Linked DNA regions of Homo sapiens: region 1 is reported to be linked to region 2. Evidence: microRNA targets listed by miRTarBase, many of them from high-throughput screens and not tested one by one. Region 2 holds a microRNA gene; the other region holds the end of a gene's coding sequence.

What was found. Region 2 holds the annotated microRNA hsa-miR-3186-5p (CAGGCGUCUGUCUACGUGGCUU, at 2,015-2,036, opposite strand). A microRNA usually pairs through its seed, bases 2 to 8, with sites in the 3' UTR of a target mRNA and lowers its output. Matches are read on the target gene's strand: a 7mer-m8 pairs with bases 2 to 8, a 7mer-A1 pairs with bases 2 to 7 and ends in A, and an 8mer does both.
Region 1: the mRNA of SLC25A15 is a reported target of hsa-miR-3186-5p. Seed matches in the 3' UTR shown: 7mer-A1 at 1,770-1,776.

What each region holds. Positions count from the first base shown.
Region 1 is chr13:40,809,003-40,813,002 of GRCh38, reverse strand. SLC25A15 (solute carrier family 25 member 15) reads right to left here. Exons shown (of 7, transcript NM_014252.4): 7 at 543-3,460. The coding sequence ends at 3,336. It overlaps MIR621 (microRNA 621), which reads right to left and starts at 2,237; the gene lies at 2,142-2,237. It also overlaps the pseudogene TPTE2P5.
Region 2 is chr17:81,449,138-81,453,288 of GRCh38, forward strand. MIR3186 (microRNA 3186) reads right to left here and starts at 2,051; the gene lies at 1,967-2,051. BAHCC1 (BAH domain and coiled-coil containing 1) reads left to right here. Exons shown (of 28, transcript NM_001377448.1): 12 at 2,531-2,733; 13 at 2,834-2,970; 14 at 3,586-3,714.

The sequences.
Region 1 (4,000 bases), not on the chromosome of region 2:
CCCCTTGCTCTGCACCAATCCCAGGTGGACAGCTGTCCTTCCTTACTCCCCTATGCTCTCCATGACTCACCACAGCTTCCCTGATGAATCCCAACACAGCCTGCTGGATGATCAACCTGAAGAGCTTGTGTTCACTCACCACTCTGTCTCCTCTTGTGAAGGCTGCGCACACTAGCTGCTTCTAGTCAGCCATCTTGGCACTTCAGATACTTGTTTTCTTAAGTAGAATTTAGTAACTTGGAATGGAATCATCCAAAACTTAAAAGCAGACAGTTTAACTATTTTTTAAAATAGAGGGAAAGAGGTGGAGGGAGAAAGTAATTCTAGTGAGCCAAGTTCCATAACTTCAGAGCATAGAAATATTTTTGTCACCTTACCTATGGTGAAATTATTTTACATGAGGTGTCTTGCTGACAGAAAACAATGCTTGTTGCAATAAAACCACTGCCTTGAAACACTACTATACATAACTCTTTAACATTCCTGACAGTTGTTTCCCAACATGGATGTAAAGAACTTCAATGAAATTCATCAGACTCAAATATTAAGTAAATAATTTAATGATAGAACACTGAAATTTCTTTAGACACAGTATTTTCAAGTTATATTTCTGCCTGGAGTACAGATATGAAATAGCACAAACTGTACTCTGAATTAAGCAAACAGAATGAATAAAAAAAAAATATTCTCCCAACCTAAGTTTCCGTTCCTCATTTCCACTTGCCTCAGACTCTTTCTATTGAACATATCTAGTTAAATCTCTAATGGACGGCCTGTGGGAAGATTTACTGCCAACAGGGATGACTGACTTCTTTCCGGACACTGAGCAGGGGACTGTGGGCTCTGAAGCAGTTTACTTCCTGTGGAAAGCCAGTCCCATTTCTATTTTACTTCGATCCAGGCCTATTCAGATAAAGCACCACTCAGTAGCTACTGACCATTTAAGTATGGAGAGAAAAGCAAAGTAGAAAAATGGTTTTCACTTAAAGAAAAAGCAAATGGAAGACCAGCCATAATAGCTCCATGGCACAAGAGACATGACAGGGATCTCCTCCCCAGATGTCCCCTGATGTTTGTCAGCCTCTCATATCCCTGGCCCTCTGGCTTCTGGCTCTGTGATTACAGTTGCCACAGAGGATTCATGGACAGCAAAAAGCTTAAGGAACCTGGAGGTTTTGTACAACATGTACATTCTGCTGACAGAAACACATACATGGTATGGACTATTATTAAAATTGATAGCCTGCTTGCACTCAGTATACAGGCTGCTTAGGAACACTTTATTGGGAGATACCCTGCTGGTGTTGGAGCAGCACAAAATGATGAGGCTAACTTAAGTAGTGACAAGAATGATCCTCTTATACCATATGGCCAAAGAACAGCTGTCCATCCCCAAGTCTATGGGGGATCAGATGAAGTGTGGAGTTTGGTTGGTTGGTCAGTGAATTTTTGGTCAGTGAATACATACATATGGCATAGTGAAGTACAATTGCTTTTCTTTTCTTTTTTTTTTTGAGATGAAGTCTCGCTGTGTCACCCAGTCTGGAGTGCAGTGGCACAATCTCAGTTCACTGCAACCTCTGCCTCCCGGGTTCAAGCGATTCTCCTGCCTCAGCCTCCTGAGTAGCTGGGATTACAGGCACGTGCCACCACGCCCAGCTAATTTTTGTATTTTTAGTAGAGATGGGGTTTCACCATGTTGGTCAGGCTGTTCTCGAACTCCTGACCTTGTGACCCGCCCGCCTCAGCCTCCCAAAGTGCTGGGATTATAGGCGTGAGCCACTGCGCCTGGCCTACAATTGCTTTTCTTATGTTCCATTGCTTTATAAACTCATATCACATATACAGTCATCATTAAGACTTACTGACTGCAAGTACCAAATGTAGAAGCCTCCAACACTGTAAAAGCATGGCAAGACAGGCTTCAGGATGGGTCAGACCTGACATTACTCACTGTGGAGTACAAGCACTGAGTTCTTTCTAGTTCTCTCTGAGAGAGGTTCACCCACTGTCACACAATCACCAAACAGGGAAGAAGGCTTCTCTTGGCTTTGGCTCTCACTGTTCCTTGGAAGGGTTTCTGATTGGTGGAGGCAGAGCAGACAGTGAGTGGCCCAAAGTGGATTGATGGCCCCAGGCCAGGACCCAGAGACAAAAGGTAAGCGCTGTTGCTAGCCACATGGGTCTTCATCAGAGCACAGCAGCACCGCCTACCACTCAGCCCCTTCCTCAATCTAAAGCCCAAGAAGGGAAGTTCTTTGGGAGAGAAGGGAAGCTGGTAAAGGCCATGCTATTTCCCAAAGGCCTGACCCTCTGGGCCACCCCTAGCAATATAGTCAGCGTGGAATATGATCCCACCTAGAAAATGAATGGCACTATTTTAAGAGTAGAGCATCTTGGGGAAATCTAGGATACCTACTCTGAAGCTTTTACTCAAGTGTGGAAGCCACACCAGTATGCAGGTATACTGTCTTACAAATCTAGAAGGATATTTTAGTTTTCAAGCACCCCATGAACACTTTTTAAAAAATTCAACCACTGGCTGGGCATGGTGGCTCACACCAGTAATCCCAGCACTTTGGGAGGCCGAGGTGGGCGGATCACTTGAGGTCAGGAGTTCGAGACCAACCTGGACAACATGGTGAAACCTCGTCTCTACAAAAAATACCAAAAAAAATTAGCTGGACATGGTGGCGCGTACCTGTAATCCCAGCTACTCAGGAGGCTGAGGTGAGAGAATCGCTTGAACCCAGGAGGCGGAGGTTGCAGTGAGCCGAGATCGTGCCACTGCACTCCAGTCTGGGTGACAGAGTGAGACTCTGTATCAAAAAAATAAAAAATAATCAACCACTTAGAAAAGTACACACATTAAGCAGACCCTACATCTAGAATGGGTTAAGCAACCATTTATAAGCATCTTCATGAGAAATGATCACCTCTGGGTTTTTCTGATATTTGAAATAAACAAGGTACCAAACTGTATTTCCCTCAACACATAACTGTCCAAATTGCATGTACAAGTGGAGGTTTACGTAAAAGCCCTGACAGAACTATATTCCACCTTTTGAATTAGGTGCATAAGGCTACTGACCACTCTATATTTTACCAAGAGCAAGAGCGGTCACTTTTCTATTTCAGTACAATTATGGACAGAAATGATATGATGCAAAATAGAGGTTCTTCCATAAAGTTTAAGATGTAGGGTAGAAGGGAAGACAAAAAGCAAAATTCCCAAGAAATCAGAATAACTTCACACTGGTCTTGTACTCCAAGAAACCCTGAGATGAACTGTAGTCCTCAAACACCTGTGCTTGGCTCAGGCCCACCAAGACACTTCAGTATGCTTCCAACTGGTTCATCATCAACTTCCTGCTATATTCGTAGGCCAAAAAGAGTGCTCCATTGGCAGGGAATGCTCGAATCATAGTAGGTTTCAGTCCAGAATATAAGGCCGTTATTCCTAGCAAATAAAAGGGCGGTCAAAGACTGCAACAATCCCTCCTTTGGGGATACCCACGCAGCTGCATAGCATAGGTATATTTACACATGCAAACCCAGACAACAGTGCTAAAAACCAACAAGTCATAGAAGGATGCATTCCCAGCTTTTCCTAAATAGACTAATGGAAACAAGGACAAGTATCAGGTCTCCTGGCAAAACTGACTGATGCTCAGGTAACATACCCCAATTCCACGCTTGGTTAACTCTTAGTATATGGATGGGGCAGAGCTGAGGCCTGAGATGGCCAGACAGAGGCAACCATGGAGATAGAGGTGGCAGCAGCTTTGCAGCTTCACCTGGGCAGTGGCAGGAACACCAACCTTGAAGTTGGAGACCTGTGTATAGTATTAGTACTGCCCAGGGTGGTTATGAAGATTGAATTAGATAAGGGAGGTGTAAGTACTTTGTAAAACTTTACATGTTATACAAATGTAAGGGAGGATTACTATGAGTAACAGACAAGGTATCTGTCCTCTATTTGGGACACAAAGTTTCTGTG
Region 2 (4,151 bases):
CCGGGTGGTGGGCCATGTGGCTTAACCCAGCATGGATGTCGTCACACTCCGGCCAGGCCAGGTGTCCCAATCCCCAGGGTGTGCAGAAGTGGAGTCAGGGCCAGCTCTGCCCTCCGGGTCTCCACCTCATGGTCCCCCCCTGGGCCCCCACCCCTGCCCCTGCCCTCCCCTTGTCCCCGTTAATGGGCAGGTCTCTGCAGCTGCTGGGCTCAGAGCTGATCCCTACAAGTGTAGCGATCACTTCAATTGAAATTAATTAGGAGGTTGGTTTTGTCCTGTGCCAGACAGCAAGATTTGCAGAGGGGGAAGTGGAGAAAAAGCCCCCACCATCGGGGCCGGGCAAGCATAGAGCCCCCAGGACTGGCAGAACCATCTGGGTGAGGCCACGTGGGAGCCACACGCCTGTAGCCTGCAAGGGCAGGGGAGGCACAGAGGGGCTTCTGGCCAACTGCAGTGACCCCAGGAGACCTGGGGCCTTCAGTGGAAGGGGCCTGCAGATGTGCCTCCCCGGCTGCTGATGGCAGCAGCTGCTCAGCCCACCCCCCCTCGGCCCTCTCTCCCCCTCCCATTCCCTGCGGATCCTGGACCCAGCAGCCTGAGTGTTCCCTTGGTCCCCATCAGATCTGTGGTCTCGGTCCAGAGCTTTGCACCCCAGCATCTGCCCCTCCGAGCACCTCCTGGCTTCTTAGTAATGACTTCTGGGGATGGATCAACCCTTGGTCTGGGCTTGTGGCCCCCTGGCCCTCCCCATACTTGAGGAGGGAAGCAGCCACGCACCATGGAGTGCCCCAGCCTGGGCGCTCAGGTCAGTGCCTTTGGTGGAATCTCAGGTGCGTGCCCCAGCTGTCAGGCGCTGATTTGTCCCATCGTGGATGGGGTTCTCCCGCACTCCTGCTTCTGGCTGAGATGAGCCATATCTCTGGGGAGCCCCGGTCCGTTAAGTGGAGCGTGGGGTTCTGAGGCAGAGACTAGGTTTGGGGTGCTCGTTGCTGTGAGGTTATCGTTGCTCCTGGGCTTTCCCAGGGGATACCAGCACCTCTACTCACCCCACAGGGGTTCCGCAGTTCTCCTGCCTTCCTGGCCATCACCACCCACCCCCACCGCAAGGTGTCTGGCTCCTGTCTCCTGCTGGATGTCCTTGTGGGATCAGCCCATGGGGACCCCGTTCCTGGTCTCTGTGGTCAGCCCTCAGGGCTGGCTTCCCCTACTCAGGCCCTGAGTCCCCAACCTGGGCCCGACCCTGCATGGACGCCAGCCTCTGCTGGCCCATGCTCTGACCCCAAGATGGGCCATCCCTTCCCCAGGCCACTGCCTGGGCTGTTGGGCTGCCGCTGTTCCTGCGGTCACTGTGAGGGTAGCTCCCCTGTCCCTGCCCCCAGGTTGAGGTCCCAGAGGATGCGGCCCTGGCAGCCCCTTCCTCCTGACCTGTGTTCAGCCCATGGCCCTCCTGCCTGCCCCAGGGCTGGAGCGTGCTGGAAAGGGCTTGGCAGAGCCCAGCACTGTGTTCAGAGACCGGGCAGGGGCAGGGATTTGGTGCTCTGAGGGAGGATGGAGGAATGGTGGCTGCTCCTCTGAGAAGGGTCACAGCAGATGAGACTGCATCCAGAAACCCCTGCCCGCTGCCCTCCTCACAAGGAATCGAGGGCCTGGGGTCCCAGCTACCCAGGAAGCTGAGGTGGGAGGGTACTGGAGCCCAGGAGTTCGAGGTTGCAGTGAGCCGTGATGGAGCCACCACACTCCAGCCCAGGCAATAAAGCGAGACCCTGTCTCAAATTTAAAGGTATCGAGGGGACTTGTCCCCTCCCTCTGCACTGACCACTGGCCTCCCTGCAGCCATTGCTCTTTAGGTGTCCACACAGGCGAGTGGACGGAAGGACTGATGGGCAGATGGACAGGCAATGGCAGGTCTTAGCTGCTGGGGGACGCCAGCCTCCACCACCTGGATGGAGTGATGCCCAGGTGCTGAAGCCCCTGGTTCCAAAGCCATCTCTCCGCGTGACTTTGAACTTGGTTGAAGCCACGTAGACAGACGCCTGTTGGAACCGCAGGCTTGAGCCACAGCATTCAACTCGGTTGAACTTCAGCAGCTTCCGTGCACGAGGCCTCAGTGGGCTCTCGTAGCACTGCCTGTGTCTCTGAGGGCCCCAGAGTATCCCTTCCCAGGGCTGCCGTTCGAAGCAGGGCCCCCCCGGTGGGGGGACACACAGGCGTTTCTGTTAGAAGCTGTAACGAGCAGATTGCTTTTACTTCGATGCTTTGGGGCCTGTCTTGCTCTGTGACACAGAGGACCCTGCCCCGTGGGTCCTCCCAGCTGGCCCTGCCTTACCACCAAGGGAGTGTCTCCCCAGCATGCAGCAAAACAGGGGTGCTGGGTGTCAGCCCTGGTGCCCACCTCACTCTTCCCGGTCTCCTGACCCTCATCCCGGTCTTCAAGGCTGGGTGGCTTCAGGGGGCCAGGGCTGACATCAAGAGCCTGTGAGGGGCAGTGTGTGCCCAGTTATGCCCATGCTGACCTTCCCATGCCGCACAGAGGAGGAAGAGGACGTGCTAGCCTTCAACCTGCAGCACCTGGCCACGCTGGCCACAGCCTGGTCCCTGGTGGAGGCCGCTGGCCTGGACAGCTCCACTGCCCCAGCGCAGCCGCCCACAGCCAACCCCTGCAGCGGCCCCAGGCTCACCCCCCGCATGCAGATCCTGCAGCGCAAGGACACCTGGACCCCCAAGACCAAGCCTGTGAGTGGAGGTCCCAGTGCCCACGTCGCCCAGTGCGTTGCCACAGAGCCCCAGCCTGGGCCCTGGCCCGGCTCACAGGCCCCTGTGCCCCCCCCACCAGGTGTGCCCCCTGAAGGCCGCCATCGACCGGCTGGACACGCAGGAGGTGGGGATGCGCGTGCGGCTGGCGGAGCTGCAGCGGCGCTACAAGGAGAAGCAGCGGGAGCTGGCCCGCCTGCAGCGCAAGCACGACCATGAGTACGCCTGGCGTGGCGGGGGGGCCTGGGAGGGTCGCAGCACCCCCACCCCCGGGAGGCGCCCACAGTGCTGGGGCCGATGTGGGAACAGGCCAGGATTGGGCTCTGCCCCCTACCTGTGGGCAGACACCAGGGTCCATCGGGGAGGCCCCCCAGAGGCAGTGGGGCCCAAGGAGGGAGGCATTCGGCCAGCAGCGAGACCAAGTGGCAGGGCCAGGGGTCTGTGGAAGAGCCGCTTGTCAGAGCCTGGTGTGGCAGGAGGCTGGCCGCAGGGTGGCGGGTGAGGGGACAGTGGCAGAAGGGGGAGTAGGGAGGACTGGGGGTGCTGTGGGGCCAGGGCAGAAGTTGGGGGATTCTCTGGGGGAGGGGACACCCCGCAGTTGCAACAAGGGCAGGGGCACCACCTGACCAGTGTGTGTGGATGGTAGGAGGTGGGGGCGGCGGGGGCCCCTGGCTGGCCTTGCCCTCTGCGTGAGGGGTCAGGCTCCCCAGGCCGAGTCTGGGCCGCATCTTTCCCCACACCCAGTAGCCCTCGAAGGCCAATGCCCTCGGCTGGAACCTTGTCGGGGAGCTGGGTTGTGCATGAGCCTCTGACCATCCCCCCTGCGGCCCCCAGGAGAGACGAGAGTTCACGGAGCCCTGCACGGCGGGGGCCTGGCCGGCCGAGGAAGCGCAAACACTCAAGCTCGCTGCCTGCCCCACGTCCCACGGGGCCGCTCCCCAGGAGCGATGGCAAGAAAGTCAAGTGAGTCCTGGGCACTGGCATGGCAGGGCGCGTGTGGCCGGCCCTGGGCCCTCGAGGCTGGGGAGCAGGGTCCAGGCTCCCCTGAGGCTTCCAGGCTGCTGGTGCCCCTTCACACCTACTCTGAAGGCCTGGCCCTGCCCTTCCTAGACCATCGAGAGTGACCAGCAGACAGAGCCCTGCTCCAGACAGGCTTTGCCCTTCTGGCAGCTCCCAGCACCACCCTGGCCCGGGTCCCCCTCTGGAAGTCACGGCCCCCAGGCCCAGCCACGCCGGCTCTGCACACCTGGCTGTGGCATCGTCCCCGCCCGGCCCCCCTGGAGTGTGAGGCGGTGTTGCGTGCAGGCCTCTTTATCTGCACTGTATAAAGTCGTTGGTCACGCTGTGGAGCTGCTCACGGCTGCCGGCGCGATGTTATTATCCATTACCCGCCCGGCGCA